Homo sapiens: one gene and its partners. The protein of the gene in region 3 binds, or shares a complex with, the protein of the main gene of each other region. Each region holds a gene or a part of one and is shown on either strand. Other genes may lie near its edges.

Region 1 (3,387 bases), on a different chromosome or scaffold from region 3:
ACCTGACCCATGAGCAGTTGTAAAACAGGTGGATACCAACTACCTCGAAGCAAATTGGTGAAAGAAAAGGCAAAGGTATCTCTTAGAAGTAAATCTCCTTCAACGTTATATATGTACAGAAGAAAAAAAGTTGATCATAGCTTTTTGTCAAGTAGCATGTTTCCCATTCACAGGAAAATGTGAGCTTATCAGTTCTTTCTCTGTATTTTAAATCTAAGTCTGTGGGCTTTAAGAGCAATGGCACAATTGCATGTTTACTGTTCAGCAAATCTGTGCCTCTTGATAGAGAAAAATACTATGTGGTTTCTGTAAGTTACCAGTTTTGAATGAAAAATGGTAAATGGATTTACATCTGTTTTATTGTACCTTAGCCTTTTATTTTAAAGTTAAAGGGATGACTTTTAAAAGCAGGACATTCCCTACCTTTAATAGTGCAAAGCACAGTTTCAGCAATGGCTACATGACTATGTCTAAAAACTGAATACTCAGAATACTAAAGGTTTGGTGCTTAAATTTATTTTTCCCATGCCAGAGAAAGCAAGCTTTGGTATGGTAAACCACATGAGAACATGGCTCCTTTCTTTTTGGATAGCCTGGCCATGTGTGAATGGGATTTTAGCTTATTATGTTTCTAAGACTTTTCCTTACAGCACACTTAATGTACCTTTTCAGTCCTTCTCCCAACCCCCTGCAAATTGTCTTTAAAACAACAACACATAAGGAATCTGAAGCACAGGAGAACACAGAGCCAACAAACAGAATGAAGAACAATCATCTATTTTTAACTGACTTTCTATCATTACCATTTTTCCTTTTGCTTAATAACTATCTTGCTTTGAAACTTTGACTCCTTTTATAAGTTCTATGAGGCACATATGTATAGCAATTTGGTTCTAAAAACCAGTGATCTTACTTTAGCTCCATCTTAAAATTTCACCTTAAGTAAATGGCCTCTAGTAGATGATAAGCCTAAAAAAAGCACAATTATTAAAACAAACAGATCCATGTTAGGACATTTCTGAATAATAAAGAGAAAAGGTGTTTCGTTGGGTATTGCAGAAAAGAGGACCAATTTCATATAGTACAAGTTTCGTAAGTCAGGCCAAGTGTCAATTTCAAAAGACAAGAAATGAAATTGACAGTGAATAGTGCTCATAAATTGGTAGCGTATATAAAGAGAAGTTCCTGTCACATTATATTCCCACTAGAATTATTATCCACAGTAAATAAATATTATTTTGTTATGCCAAAAATATAGCGAGCAGCTTCATGGTTAATAATACATTTATGTTGACACCTCCCTAATCCAGGAAACATTCACAAACAAGGACTCCCATATACAAATACTTTAGGAAGAGAGATTTCCCAGGCAGATATCACCAAAAATGTTTTCACTGTAGGAATCACAAAATAAGTTTTTGTCAAAATAACTGTTGTTGAACGTTATACTGGTCTTCCTCACTGGTGATTGATAAGCTCCTTTCTAGCCAGTTTGTGGTACTTCCTTCATTTTCCCTAGAAATGTTACTTGTTAAATGTGTCCTCAGGCGGTTTCATCTTTGTTGATTCTGCCCATCTAAGTCATAAGCTTCTCAAATGCAAGCTACTAGCTAGTTACACTTGTAAGTTTTCCATAATGACATGATTTTAAACATAAAGAGTTCATAAGAATCACTTGGAGAGACTATTTAAAAATGAGATTCCTAGGCCCACCTCAGATTGTGATAAATCTGTGTGACTGACTGATGCACACTTTTTCTGGACTATAATAACTGATGCTGCTCTACTGCTTTAATACAGGCCAAAGTAACGTGGAAGCGCACAGCAGAAAATCTTCAGAAAGACATCAGGTTTGTTCTGATTTTGACAAGGGTAACTTCTTCTTTATTAAAGCAAATAACTGGACATAATCTTAAAGGATTCCACCTCCATCGTCTTTCCTAACTTAGATCTTCATTGAGAAATTGGGCAAGGTTAAGTTTACTTTTTTCTAGTGCTGCGGTTTTGGCTCGTCTTGGTAGTCTCATCTTCATTTCTGATTCTGGTTCTGGAACTTCATGATCACTAAATAGATGTTGAAAATACACGAATTTAGATACAAGCTTTAAAACCAGTTTATTTATAAATAAAACTTTTTTGTTTCTGACTCACATTCTATCAGTGTTTAATTGATAGCCTGATTCCATTGACTTAGCTTAAAACTAAAATCTCAATGTCAAAAAAACACTGACTTGGCTATCTAGCAAAGTGAATCAGGGAAAATCTAGCTAATGATTTTATATACTATAACAGAACCTGGTGTTATACAGGAAAAAAAGCCACAAACTTGTAATGAAGCTTGTAATTAAACGAGGACCATAACTGTCCAAAAGAGATTTCTTTGAAACTCAAGAAGTGACAAAAAAATTAAGTTCTCTCTCTTGATTTAAGCAATAAATTCCAAAAACATAGTAAAAAACAAGTTTCCCCCCAAAAAAGACAAATTTAATCAACAGTGTAAAACTATGTACTGAAAATACACACAATACAATTTTGCAAATGAATACAAGACAGCTACCAACTTTCAGCTCTAACAGTGGCTTGACTGACAGAAGCCAAAAATAAAACACTCTACCACACAATATACCCAAATTATAGACAGAATTATTCTATCAGTATGTAAGTGTAGAGAACCCAAATATTATCAAAATCAAGAGTTTGCTAACTGAAGATCAAAGAGGAGTCACATCATGTAATTAAAAATTGAAACAACATATTAAAGATAGTACTAAAGACCATGCCAGCTAATAGGCAAAAGCAAACACGCCGTAAGAAGTCAAATGCTCTTGATGATGGAATTTTAGACTATATACCTAAGACAGCTATTTATAGTTTTCACTATCTTGTTATATATTCTCTCTCATTCGCAAGAAAATTAGTTTTTTTCTACTTGTAGAAATAAAAAGTGAAGATAGGCCTCCATATATTCTAGACATGCATGACATACCTTTCAGAGTCGGCTTCAGCAGTCTGACACCTCCTGTTCGTCCTAGCTGAAACTGTCACTTTTCTCTGTCCTTGAAGATAGTATAATTCATTATCAGGATTTATTATCAGTTGCTTTTTGTTTTTAATCTAGTTTCTAGGCTAACTAAATCCTTTGTCTTCAACACAACAATCCTTTCAACACATGTATCTCCTACTTGTTCTAGCCATCTTGGTACCAGTTATCACTGCCACAGAAAAAGGAACCCAAGCAAGATTAAAACTTAATTTATTTTGTAAGCACTAATAATGAGTAAGGGAAAATAAGGAAATTTCAAGCAAGTTAAAAGAAGGCAAATTTTAGTTCAATGTATTTGAGGACAGTATATGAAAAATGTGTTATAATGAAGTACCTCTATTATT
Region 2 (7,000 bases), on a different chromosome or scaffold from region 3:
AGAACTTACATTTGAGTCAAATGGCCATAATGTATTATTTAAGTATACATTTTTCAGATAGCTAAAAGTTGGGATTCAGTGTTTAACAGTTTACGCTGACAAAAATATTCCTTAAAAACATTGTATTTCTCCTGGCAAATTACTTACTGAAGAGATAGAGTACAGCTATTAAGAAACAGCTTAGCTTTGGGTAAATAACAATGGTTGCTCATTTTTGGTTGTTTGTTCCTCTCTCTCCAAATAAAATGAAAGATACAGCTATGATTTCCTCTAATAGAGTTGAGCATTTTTTTTTTTAAAGGCAGGATATTTACAAAGCAAAATAGTTACATCTCAACTCCTGTATAACATTCAGTCTTTTTTTTTTTTTTTTTTTTTTTTTTTGAGACGGAGTTTCGCTCTGTCGCCCAGGCTGGAGTGCAGTGGCGCGATCTCGACTCACTGCAAGCTCCGCCTCCCGGGTTCACGCCATTCTCCTGCCTCAGCCTCCTGTGTAGCTGGGACTACAGGCACGCGCCACCATGCCCGGCTAATTTTTGTATTTTTTAGTAGAGACGGGGTTTCACCGTGTTAGCCAGGATGGTCTCGATCTCCTGACCTCGTGATCCGCCCGTCTGGGCCTCCCAAAGTGCTGGGATTACAGCAGTCTTAAGATTATTATACCGTATTGCTTTTTTTTAAACCAGTTACCATATTATCAGATTAGCATTATTGAATCAACAGGCTATTAACAGGCCTTTACTTGTCCTTTGACTATTAAGACTACTGTGGTATTACAATGACAACCTGGGACTTTTCTTGTTGCTCTGTTCTTTGATGTCCTTTGCCTGCCCTACCACTTGCTACCATTTCCTTTCTTCCTTCTTTTTCCATTTGTGCCATCTCCTATGTAATCTGTAGATTGACAGTCTGTGCCTAAAGGATTCCTCCTTATTTCTTCAGAAAACTTACATAACTCATGTAAAATTACAGAATATAGTTTTAATTTAGGGCAATAAGCTCAATATATTTCAGAAATAATTTTAAAACATCAACCTGAATTTAAAGTCATATCAAGGTTCAATCCAAGTCACAAATAGTGACTGGCACAATCACAGACAAAAAATGTTTCAAGTCGCTACAACACTATTATCTGATGCTGACAAAGTTTCATATGTTCCCAGTGTTATCTCTATTTCTTGTATCTTAAAGCATATGAAACAAGGTCTTAAATGATTTTTCCCACCACTGTTATCTTAAGTTATGGAACACTTTCTTGAGTGGCAAACAAGGATATTATGATCCAGTTATACCACTCTTTGAGAATCAATTTACTGAAATACAGCTTAGAAATCTAAGAGGAATGAATAGGTATGATGCCCTTTATCCTTATTCAAATGTAATCCAAATTTTAGCAAGCATCAACTACAGAAAACTCAAACAGTACATAGCTATAACAAAGTTTTGTTGTCCTAGTAAGGCCTCAATTATTCTTCTCTTTATTTTTACTTGTAATTACTATGAAGGAGGGTTTCAGTGATTCTTACAGCAAATATGAGTGTTTGCATAAAAATTAAATGGCCTAAAATTACTGAGGTTTAAGTTTTTATCTTGATCATCTTTTTATTTTCTATATCTTTTATTATACTATACTATAAATTAGTGTTCTTTATCTTCCTCCAATACATTTTACTCTAATTTGATCTTTGTAAGCTACCAGAGGCCAAGGAACTAAACCACCAAGGTTAGTATCTTTCTAAAATAAAACAGAAAGAGTAACTTGTTAGTAGCTGGACTTCTTGATATCTATTTCTGGTTGGTTAGAGGTAGCTTCCTTGCTGCTCTCCACCACCTTCACCCTAGTTGTGGATATTGAATCAGACACCTTTGGAAAACTGAGGCATTACTGAAAAAACTAAAAATTTCTTTTGATATTATAGCATAGGCTCATTTCTACAGACTAAGAGACTAGAACCCAAGTAGTTTATGTGACAAGCTTAAGAGAAGTACATTGGAAAAAAGAACAGATGGCTAGGCAACAACTCAGACCTAGGTTAATTAAATCTCCAAATTACAAAATAATTAAAAAAAAAAAAAAGAACTTGGCTATTATTTATTTATTTAGAGACAAGGTCTGTCACCCAGGCTGGAGTGCAGTGGTACGATGTTGGCTCACTGCAACCTCTGCCTCCTGGGTTTAAGCAGTCCTCCCACCTCAGCCTCCTGAGTAGGTGGGACTATAGGGGTGTGTCACCATGCCCAGCTAATTTTTGTATTTTCTATAGAGACATAGTTTCACCATGTTGCCTAGGCTGGTCTCCAACTCCTGGGCTCAAGTGATCTGCCTGCCTCAGCCTTCCAAAGTGCTGGGATTATAGGCGTGAGCTAATGCACCCAGCCTGGTTCGTGTTTCAAACTTTAGATTTTGTAATATGAAGACAAAAGCATATGAAGTTGAAAACTTTGACAAAATTAAAGTTGTGCTAATAGTTGTAGCTTTTGAGGAGTTTACAAAAATATTCCTGAGGCAGCAATCATTAATACAACTTTTTAGTAAAAACATTAACCATTCTTCTACCCCTGAATGGAGCAAAAGCACCCCTAATTTATAAGTCATAGTTACCCAAGAAATGTTATACAGAGCTAATAAAACTCTACTTGTACAGACTTACAACGGGACCGAGGCTCCCAAAGTAGGTATATATAAAAGAAAATGTACGATTATAAAAAACACAATGGTCAATCACAACAAACTTTTTGAAGGCATGTATGTGTCTTTAAGGACAAGAAATAAGGTTTAGCCATCTTAATATTACTTACAGCATTTTAGCATAGTGCCTTAATAGGAATTCAATTGAATGGCCAATTAATGAAATTTTTAATGGATTTAAGTAATAAAAATGCCTACTTGAAAAATTTGCTAAGCGAATATATTAACACTGAAAAATTTTACTCTTAGGAACTTCTAAAAAATTTGGTTCTTTTTAATCTCAAAAATAAATGTTTATTTTTACTAAATTTAGATTACTTTTGCTGTTAATCACTATTACTGGCCAAATAGTCTACATGTTTTATTCCAAGTAATGATTTAGGTCTTGGATGTTGATACTACGATGCTGTTTCCAATTTCTCAGCCTCCCAAATCAGTTTTTAAGATAGATGTTATTCAGTAGGAGAGAAGGTAATAAAAATCACATTTTTACTTACCATCAAATGCTTTAAATTGCCAGTTAGGAGTCTGAGATTTTCATAAGCGACTTAAAAAAAACAATCCATAGAAACCATTGTCACTTTCCCTCAAAGTTTTAATTGGGCACTATTAGTTCTACCGTAGTCCAATCCCTGTTTCTTATTCCTAACAAGTGAGTTCCTAAGGTCCTTATCTATAAATTTAATTGAGTCAAACTGAATCTGTTAACTTGGAACATTCACCTTTGTATTATTTGGGAAGAAATGTTTTTTAAACAATTGTAAAGATCACATAAAAAGGTTCAGATTATCATGTGAACAAATTGGCTTTAGCATCCCATATACTTCAGAAGCACAAATGTAATATAAATTTGACAATTTATAAATTATTTACTTCGTTGGGACAATATTACATTAGCTTCCTTTATTACTGAATTACGTACAGAGATGCTGTACAGAGAAAAAAATTATCCTTAGAAGGGTTAAAATGCAGTGTATTTTGATGAATCTTTGGATAAATGTAAAACTTTGATTATCCCAGGATGACGGTAAAAGATTAAGCAAAAGATAAACATAAGTACAATTTCCTGCAAATTGGTATCATCATCAAATTTAGTATTATATAGGGACATAACTTTTTATCCATTATTAACCAAACCAAGTCCCAGAATATGTAAGTCAATAAAACAGTTCAATTTGATTTTAAAAACACACAAAATCCTTTAATGCCACATTCTATAAATTCCAATCTTGTTTAGAAATATATCTGCAATTAATTTCCTCAACATTAATTTTTAAATAAGTTTAGGTTGAAGTATTGCAAATATACTGTGCCTGGTAACAAAAGATATTAAAAAAGGTTATCCTAGAATGATACTGATTTACCTTGTATACTATGAATGTCTAAAAGTAATAATTTTTAGAAACAATTGAAGAATAAAGACTAAAATGGAAACAGAGGCTAACATTTTATAAGTTTGTTATTAGGAACATCCAGTCACCCTAACAAAATTCCCTACTTATTTCAGTCATTTCTGCATCACAAAATAGTTTTGCTTTTATTATGCTTCGGTGATTCTGGATAGAACACAGGAAAAGAAGATACCCTCGAATCAAACAGGAACTTGACAAAGCCATGGTTTTACCCTAATTTTTTTTTTTTCCGAAAAATTCTGAATTTTGAGGACAGGGAAAAAAAGATAGGGGATTTTTCTTACCAAGCCATGCTGGTAGAATATACTTTTACTTAAAGAAAACAGGGTTTCTAATAAAAATCAGTTTGGCACAGGTACTTAATTTTTACATCTCTTTAAAAGGACTTGCTCTGTAACAGCTCTGATACTTAACAATGTAATATCAAAGTTTCGTTCTTTCAGTAGTAGTGGTTCCACCAAGTAAGTCATTTTCAACAAAACAAAAACCAACTTGAGTAAAGGTTAAGTTAACCATCCAAAGTGTTACAAAGATTAAATTAACTAGGTGCTTAGGTAAATCAAACACCAAGTGTACAGATTTTTTCATTTTTTGGTTATATATCAGAAGAGATAATAAGAACAAAAACAAAGGAAAAGGATAGATTAAAATATAATACATTTCATTTAAAATGTTACCTTAAAGGGAAATACAAACAATTGATAAAATAGTTGCTGTATCCCTGTCACACTAAAGCAGCACAGTAATATTGGTGTTTAATATATATTTCACTACGCCAATATTTACGTGCTGCTAGAGTGGAACAAGTATGTCAGTTCATCCAAACATAAAACGAACATCTGATGATGAAAACATAGTTTTGAATGAATTTCCTTAAATTTCTAGAGCAGCAAATAATGATTCGCATCTTGACTGTAGCATGTAAACCATGATGTGCTGCTACAGTACTTTAAGGCCTCAAAAATGTAGGATTCATCCAACCTAGCTTTATAGAAAAAAAAGTAACAAGAATAAGAGAATCTTTGAAGTCTTTAATAAACTTACCTGTAAAATTAAAAATCTATTATGGTCCAAGTCAATTCCATGGCTTCGAAGAAGATTTCCAACATCCTTAAATGTCTTTTTCTTTCCACTTATGTGATAGACAGAAGTATTATCTCTGCAGGCCGTTCTGGATACATAGAAATTACTGTTAGGAATGACTTCATAATCATCCCCTTCCTGTTTTGAGGAAAAACAAAACCAGAAAACAATTGTTGGTATTAAGTCATAGGCCTACTTCAAAATTCACTCATTTCATACTGAAACTAATTCTATGGATTAAAAACTTCAATTGAACATGCACACAAACTGCCAGTAGTTCTCATTAATAACCCAACTTAGCAAAGAATTGATACTTTTCCATGCTGTTTTGGTCCCTTTCTCAAAGATCACAAAAATCAAGAAGCCAAACCAACCAGCCAACGAAAAAACCCACCTCCAAACAAGCCTAAAAACGTTTATGATTGAGAAGACGTAGACAAGATTCCCACCATATCCAAAACCCACACAAATTATTAACATGTTGACAGATTAAAAAGCTGCAGCTTTTTAAAATGATGATTCAAAGAAAAAGGAAGGAAGGTAGTAACCGGGTGATACACTTTAGTTTTTTTGTGTGGGAGGGTAAAGAGTGTGCCGTTAATTTAAAGTAAAAAGAATCACAAAGAAATAACAACTAAATTCCCTTGATTTTCTTTTAAACAGATTTTTAAAAAAATCAATTGCAAATCTACTTTAACACTTTCCCTTAACCTTAAAAGTTCTGTCATACTGAAGCAAAGGCTTCTAAAATTTAGATAAATCAAATGTAATTAATATGCAATGGAATAAAATCTGATTTCCTGGCAATCTATTTTCCAACCCAACTTGTACAATAGAAAGCACAAAAGAAACCAAATTAAAATAGATGATTCTGTGTAATTAAAGCACTTTGTATTAAAAAAAGGAAAACGAATTCAAAAGACAAATCACCTCCCAATTTCATTATGTAATTAGTTTTCTATATTTTTAGGTTCCATCGAGTCATTTTTGAACAATCAATTTCCTACATTATTAAACAGAAGAGAAAAAGTCTCAACAGGTAAATAATCTAGACATTTTACCTCTAGTTGTCTCCATTTCTAGAAAACAAACATTAGCTTGTCCTTCCCCCATTTCTAAAGGACTTAATTACAGCAGTAGTCAAACTGAAGCAAAGCTCTTTCATATCACAGATACTCAGGGGCCACTAACATTAGAGTTAAAATGCACTGAAATAATGAAGATGGTAAAACCGGCTAACTGCTACATTTTCAAGTTTAGCTAATTTATTCTAAAGCAATCAAAATATAACTTTAAAAATGAACTGAATATTTATAGTAAAATAATGCCTATTTAGTACTCAGGACCCTAAAACTGCTCAATGCTTTTATTCCAAAAAGGATTACTATGAACTATTTATACTTCATTTCTTTAGCTAAAAAATAAGTATTTTAACAGGCACCACCACTCCCCCAAAATAAAATACGGTCAGAGATAATGAAACCAATGCTTTCCGCTGTAATTACATACAAATTTCTTAAAGCCAAAAATAAAATATGTAATGCATTTAAGTCCATTTTCCTTACTTGAACTTGCCAATAACAGTAAAAATCCCTTACCTTATCAATTATCTTTTGAAAATGAACTTCTACTGTACAACTCTGAATGTCCTTGTGTTCATCAGAATTATGTATTAATACTGAGAGTTTTTTAGATCTTATTTTTTGTGCTCGATAGCCAAACACAAAAAGCATAGAATCAATAACATTGGATTTGCCACTGCCATTTGGCCCGATAATACAGGAAAAGCGCTGCATTAAAAAAACAAAAACAAAAC
Region 3 (7,155 bases):
TTGTGGACTAGGCCTATGGTCAGACCATTACTACATGAAAACATCTACCATCACCTGGTGGCAGCATATCTGTGTGCAGTTAATTTAAAAGACACATTATGTAAGTTTCTCAAAGGTTAACTCTAAACATAAACAGATCACGAAGAATATCCCATTCTTTTGCCTACTTGTAACTAGCTTTGGCAAGCAGTTGATAGATGCGTCCTTTCACATCTTCAGTTGTCTCTGTATTGGCAATTTGCTCAGGAATCTCCTCCTCTCCCTGGGGAAGCTGTAGAAGCTGCTGCAGGGTAGACTTCAACTCTGGCAGCATGGCTTCCCACTCCTCCTCTGGGTCCAGCACTGCAGCTAAATGAGAGTGTCACTTAGTCTCTTTCACTAGAGTTTCTGACTGCAAGGAGAAGCCTGTCTGGCATTAGGACTCCAAGGCAGTAACTACTTACAAGCTGCTGCAGTTCGCCTCTGGGCCCTCATCTCTTGTAATTTCTGGGTCTCCTTCTGCAGTGGTCCGGCAAGGTCAGCATCACTAAGCTATCAGGTAAAATGAATAGCAGGGTCAGTAAATGACATAATTTCATCCCTGTTTCCATTTAATTCCTTCTCTTTTGGTGGACCAAGTCTACTTACCTTGCAGGAGAAAGGATTATTGGCTAGAAAACTGGCCAGCAGCTGGATGGCATTTTTACATACTAGCACTGACTTGTCTGCCAGACGTCCCACAGCTAAAGCCACCACTGCCTGGAAACGTGTCAGGGGGAGAGCCTGTGTAGGGTAGGAAGAGAAGAATCTGCTCAAGTCCCACATCATCCATTTTGTTCAAGATGATCTTTAAGTATACTCTAAACTGAGCTACCCACTCACTCTAAAAACCCTTTCTACAGAATATAGATTAGGAGTACTCCTTGTAGTGGTAAGACACATTACAGTCCTTAAAGGGAGCCAGATATCCTCGTCCTTGGTAGAGGAAGACTTTTACTACTGATAATAAAAATGTGAATTCTAGACCTCTTTGGGGCAGATATTTATCTTCAACACTGGATTCCTCTTTACACTGGTATATGGAGAGGTACCATATGTTTTTGCCACATAGAAGTTGGTTACCTTCTGCTGGACAATTCGGGTGAAGAGCTGCAAAACACGGCTCCGCACAAAGGAGTTGACATCATGGCCATGGGCTTGTAAAGTATCCAAGAACTGGTCTCTGGTGTCTCGGGCTGCTGCTTCCAGTTGATCGCCACTGAGAACCTGCAGCACCATCTCCGCCATGGCTGCCAGCACAGCATTACGCATCATGTAATTCTAAGAGAGAGAAGCATAGAGGGGTCAAACCTTTAGTCAAGGCGAAGCTTGCTTGTGCTTGGCCATAACTTTTTCCATTAACTGCCTAGGTATTCACTCCCAAGGTCACAGGAGAAAGCTGAATCCCAAAGAGGACTTGTTGCTCAGAGAATGCTAGAACAAGGGCCAAAACCAATTTTTCCTCATAGGGCTCACACAGGAAAGCATGGTAGTAGCTGAATAAAAAAATCACATCCACTCACCAACACACATTTGAAAAGCATTTATTAACTACCCTTCAGCTGAGGTCTCAAAGCCTTTGTTATTGTGGTTGTTTGTTTGTTTTTGAGACGGAGTCTTGCTCTGTTGCCCAGGCTGGAGTGCTGTGGCGCCATCTCGGCTCACTGCAACCTCTGACTCCCGGGTTCAAGTGATTCTCCTGCCTCAGCCTCCCAAGCAGCTGGGATTACAGGTGCCCGCCACCACACCCAGCTAATTTTTGTATTTTTAGTAGAGACAGGATTTCACCATATTGGCCAGGCTGGTCTCAAACTCCTGACCTCGTGATCCACCCTCCTCGGCCTCCCAAAGTGCTGAGATTATAGGCGTGAGCCACCGCGCCCGTCTGTGTGGTTTTTTTTGGTTTTTTTTTTGAGACAGAGTCTCGTTTTGTCACCCAGGTTGGAGTGCAGTGGTGCGATCTCGGCTCACTGTAACCTCCATTTCCCAGGTTCAAGCAACCCTCCCACTTCAGCCTCCCGAGTAGCTAGGATTACAGGTGCGCGCCACCACACCCAGCTAATTTTTTTTTGTATTTTTAGTAGAGATGGGATTTCACCATGTTGGCCAGGCTAGTCTTAAACTCTTGACCTCAAGTGATCCACTCACCTCAGCCTCCCAAAGTGCTGGGATTACAGGCGTGAGCCACCACACCTGGCCTCAAAGTCTTTAATCCTTACTAATAAATATCCCCTCCTTTCCCTCCCACTCTCCTTCAGATGCTTTACTGACAGAAAATGAGACAGAAACATGGAAATCAGCCTTAAGAGTGCCAGCAAGTCCAATACATAATCTAGTGGAGAGCAGGGTTAAGGTTTTGCCAGGCTAAGAACCAGAGAATAGGGTCTTGCACAAAAAGTTAAAGTAAATGAGATGAACAAGTGGACTGTCTTTGTCCTTGACATTCACCTAGGAGTGCCCAACATCAGTATGGGAATCAGCCAGGTTAGCATTCAGGCATAAAAGAGAATTGAGAGAGATGACATGGGTTGATTTGAGAAAGTTCATTGTTTGAGGAAGCAAGGCAAGCCAGCTGGTGGGAAGACGCTTTATCCTGAGGAACAGATGGGACTCAGAATCAAAGCTGAAGGCTAAGCATGGTAGCGCCTGCAATCCCAGCACTTTGGGAGGCTGAGGCAGGAGGGTTGCTTGAGACCAGGAGTTTGAGACTAGCCTGGGCAATATGGCAAGACCCCACCTCTACAAAAACTAAAAAAATTAGCCAGGCATGGTAGTATGTGCCTGAAGTCCCAGCTACTTGGGAGGCTGAGGTGGGAGGATTGCTTGAGCCCAGGAGATCGAGGCTGCAATGAGCTATGATCATGCTCCAGCATGGGTGACAGAGCCAGATCCTACCTCCAAGAAAAAAAAAAAATCAAAGCTGAGTTGCTCTTACTAGACTTAAGCTGCAGAAATGTCATCTCCCTTACCAGAACTGGATAAAAGCAATGTGAATTGAAAGATTAACAGATTAATAAAGAGCTCCTTATTCAACAAACTTGACCTGCTTCTCTACAGAAAGGAAATGTCACAATGATAAATCTAGACAACTTGTCAAAGCTACTTTCTTGTTCTGTTAAGAAACAGCCTTTCAACACTGGACTTAAAATCCCCAGAAAAAGCTCAGTGACCCCTAGTGGACCACCTACTTCTCCATCCAGGTGATCTAGCAAAATGCACATGCTGGACATCAGGATAGCTGGGACACGTTCTGCTAGTTCTGTCAGGAATGCTGCAAAGCCCTTTGTCCCTGAAGGGTCTCGACTCAGCTCTTGGGGACACTTTTGTCCAATCTCTCTACACAGGGAAGAAAACACAGCCATAGCAACATAGATCAATTATTCAGTTCCCAGTAAGGGAAGGTAAGACAGGTATCTAATATCTGAAGGAATCTACTGTTGCACAGATAATGTATTTCCAATCTTTCTTTATTCCCTCCCCAAGGAAAATAAGCATGAGAAACTTCGAGAAGGAAGAGTCACCTTACAATCTCTCCCACTATGCTCTTCATTCCATAGTCAGTTGCCCATAGACTCACGGCTGCAACCAGTACAGGTGCCAGGTGTTCAAAGTGCTGCAGCATCTGGATGATCTTCACTGTAGCACCTGTGGAAGCATTAAACATGAGAAATTATGGGCAATACAAAAAAGGCGGGGCAAAGCGACTGGTAACTTACTGAGCATATGGTTATAACGGGTCAAGGCTACACCAAGCAGGTGTGTTATGGCTTCCCGAGTGGGGCGGTTCTTCTGGTGATTAATGGTGGGATTCTCCAGAAGGCGGTAGCAACAGCCAGTAACCAAACTGAGAAAGGAAGAGTTTGAGATGATGAAAGCAGCTGTCTGAATCCAATTGTATCAGAGCCCTGCCTCATTCATTCTATCCCTACTGCTCCCAAAGTCAGGGTTTTCTTTATTCTAGCCATTACTTTCTATAACAAGTTGCTTTGCTTTGCTGACCCCAGTTAGGTACTCCTTCCTTCAAGATTACCAACTTTCAACCAGTTGTGATGCTGACAAAGAACCTAAATATATCATAAAAATATGATAGAGTTGGCCGGGTGTGGTGGCTCATGCCTGTAATCCCAGCACTTTGGGAGGCCGAGGCAGGTGGATCACGAGGTCAGGCATTCAAGACCAGCTTGGCCAACATAGTGAAACCCTGTCTCTACTAAAAATACAAAAAATTAGCTGGGTGTGGTGGTGGGCGCCTGTAATCCCAGCTACTTGGGAGGCTGAGGCAGGAGAATCCCTTGAACCTGGGAGGTGGAGGTTGCAGTGAGCTGATATCATGCCACTGCACTCCAGGCCAGGCGACATTGCGAGACTCCATCACAAAAAAAAAAAAAAAAAAGACAAAGTCACCAATGACTTCTCATTCCTAAATATAACGACTGATTCAATCTGCATCTCAAGTGGTCTTTCACAGCTGCATGTGATACAGTTAATCACTCACTTTCTCCTTGAAATATATGCTTTATCTCGCTTCCAGGACACAAGAACAAGACTCCTTTCTCAGTTTCTTTGGCTAGTTCCTCCTCAGACTCTTTTTTTTGAGACAGGGTCTGCCTCTGTTGCCCAGGCTGGAGTGCAGTGGTGCAATCACGGCTCACTGCATCCTTGACCTCCTCATAGCTCAGGTGATGCTCCCACCTCAGCCTCCACCATGCCCAGCTAATTTTTCTATTTTTTGTAGAGACACAGTTTCACTATGTTGTCCAGGCTGATCTCAAACTCCTGGGCTCAAGTGATCCTCCTGCCTCAGCCTCCCAAAGTGCTAGGATTATAGGCGTGAGCCATGCACCCGGCATCCTCACTCTTAATGCTGGAGTGCCCTAGGGTACCAGTCCTTGGATTCCTGCTCTTTTAGCTACACTTACTGATTTGGTAATTTCATTCAGTCTCACGGCTCTGAATACTATTATATTCCCAAATGTGTTATCTCTAGCTCAGACCTCTCTCCTGAACTCCAGATCTATATATTCAACGTCCAAATCTGACTTTACGTGGCTAATAAACACCTCAAACTTTGTATGTCCAAAACAGAACATCTGATCTTCCTCCCAAAACACCTATTCACAGCCTTCTCCCTATCTCAGTTACCATTAACTCCAGTCTTCCAAATGCTCAGACCAAAACCCGGGAGAGTCATCCTTGACTGAACTCTCCCTCCCACCTCACACCCAGTCTGTTAGCAAATCCTGTAAGCTCTACCTTAAGGAAAAAGTATAGAATCCAACTACTTCTCCCCATCTCCACTGCCACGCCTTGGTCTAAGAGACCATCATCTCTTGCTTGAGTTATTGGAACAGCCTCTTAACTGGTCTCTTGCTTCCCCTTTCCCTCCATAGTCGATTTCAATACAACAGCTAGGATGGCCCTGTTGAAGTACAAGTCAGGTCACCTCACCTCCCTGCTTGTGGCTCCCCAGTGGCTCCACTTCATTCTGAGGAAATGCCAAAGTCACCATGATGGCCCACAAGAACCTGCGGTCTGGCTCCCCACTGCTCCCATGGCCTCACGGCCTAACCCTCGTACCTGCTCTCAGCTGTCAGCTCTCTGGCCTCCTTGCTATTGCTCGTACGTGCTGGACATGCTCCCTCCTCAAGGTCTTTGCATATGCTATTCCTTTTCCCTGCCCTTGCTATTCCTCCACATATTCTCATAGCTCTCAGTCACCTCCTCTGGGTCTTTGCTCAAATGTCACCATCTCAAAGAAGTCTTACTAGAGTAGCTTGTCTGTCTGTTTGTCTGTCTGTCTATCTATCTATCTATCTTTTTTTTTTTTTTTTTTTTTGGAGATGGAGTCTTGCTCTGTTGCCCAGGCTGGAGTGCAGTGGCGCGATCTCAGGTCACTGCAAGCTCCACCTCCCGGGTTCACGCCATTCTCCTGCCTCAGCCTCCTGAGTAGCTGGGACTAGAGGCGCCCGCCACCATGCCCGGCTAATTTTTTTTTGTATTTTTAGTAGAGACGGGGTTTCACCGTGGTCTCGATCTCCTGACCTCGTGATCCACCTGCCTCAGCCTCCCAAAGTGCTGGGATTACAGGCGTGAGCCACCGCGCCTGGCCCTATCTATTTTTTTTGAGACGGGATTTTGCTCTTGTCGCCCAGGATGGAGTGCAATGGTGCGATCTCAGCTCATTGCAACCTCCCTCTCCCAGGTTCAAGTGATGCTCCTGCCTCAGCCTCCCAAGTAGCTGGCATTACAGGCACACACCACCATGCACAGCTAATTTTCATATTTTTTTAGTAGAGACAAGGTTTCACCATGTTGGCCAGGCCGGTCTTGAACTCCTGACCTCAGGTGATCCACTCGCCTCGGCCTCCCAGAGTGCTGGGATTATAGGCGTGAGCCACCGCACCGGGCCTAGAGTAGCTGATTTAAAATCACAACCTTCTTCCATCAAACTTATTTTACTTATTTTAAAAATAGACTTCTGGCTGGGCGTGGTGGCTCACACCTGTAATCCCAGCACTTTGGGGGGCCAAAGCAGGGAGATCACCTGAGGTTAGGAGTTCAAGACCAGCCTGGCCAACATGGCAAAACCCGTCTCTATTAAAAATACAAAAATCAGCTTGTGGTGGCGGGCACCTGTAATCCCAGCTACTCGGGAGGCTGAGGCAGGAAAATTGCTTGAACCCAGGAGGTAGAGGCTGCAGTGAGCCGAGATTGAACCACTGCGCTCCAGCCTGGGCGACAAGAGTGAAGCTCTGTCCCCCCACAAAAAAAAAACAAAACCAAAAAAACGGCATATCTATCAACAGAGCCTCACTCTCACAGCTCAGTATTATCTGTAGCCATCCTCCCTACCCACCTGACAAATTCTTCTTCAATTATTGAGTGGTTCCACAGGTGACGGATGTCCAACTGAAGTAGCTGTGTTAAAAGCTGAAGAATTGGTTGCCTCTCTTCTTCCCAGTCAAAGCCATGGGCTGCCTTGGTCCGAGCTTTCTTACCCTAAAAAGGATCATGTATACATTGAGGAAAAAATAAGGGAAAAAAGTGGGTCAAGATCTGTCAGTCTGAGTGCCCAAACAATCTAGTACCAAGACAACATAGAAGGTAATACGGAAGAAATATTACAAGTTCCACAGC

Evidence for each region. Proteins that work in one complex are often made in the same cells at the same time.
Region 1: NCAPD2 (region 3) and NCAPG share a complex: the UniProt entries of both Homo sapiens proteins name them as parts of the condensin complex.
Region 2: NCAPD2 (region 3) and SMC4 share a complex: the UniProt entries of both Homo sapiens proteins name them as parts of the condensin complex.

Annotation. Positions count from the first base shown.
Region 1 is NC_000004.12:17,841,979-17,845,365, reverse strand, and holds the end of NCAPG (condensin complex subunit 3), read right to left. Parts: exon of another isoform or gene 3,057-3,387; coding exon 2,987-3,056; exon of another isoform or gene 2,065-2,986; coding exon 1,941-2,064; 3' UTR 501-1,940; downstream 1-500. UniProt on the Homo sapiens protein: Regulatory subunit of the condensin complex, a complex required for conversion of interphase chromatin into mitotic-like condense chromosomes.
Region 2 is NC_000003.12:160,402,650-160,409,649, reverse strand, and holds part of SMC4 (structural maintenance of chromosomes protein 4), read right to left. Parts: intron 6,975-7,000; coding exon 6,783-6,974; intron 5,323-6,782; coding exon 5,146-5,322; intron 5,063-5,145; exon of another isoform or gene 4,965-5,062; intron 4,906-4,964; exon of another isoform or gene 4,825-4,905; intron 1-4,824. UniProt on the Homo sapiens protein: Central component of the condensin complex, a complex required for conversion of interphase chromatin into mitotic-like condense chromosomes.
Region 3 is NC_000012.12:6,510,972-6,518,126, reverse strand, and holds part of NCAPD2 (condensin complex subunit 1), read right to left. Parts: intron 7,018-7,155; coding exon 6,875-7,017; intron 3,863-6,874; coding exon 3,735-3,862; intron 3,664-3,734; coding exon 3,540-3,663; intron 3,355-3,539; coding exon 3,207-3,354; intron 1,300-3,206; coding exon 1,102-1,299; intron 763-1,101; coding exon 628-762; intron 532-627; coding exon 444-531; intron 349-443; coding exon 168-348; intron 1-167. UniProt on the Homo sapiens protein: Regulatory subunit of the condensin complex, a complex required for conversion of interphase chromatin into mitotic-like condense chromosomes.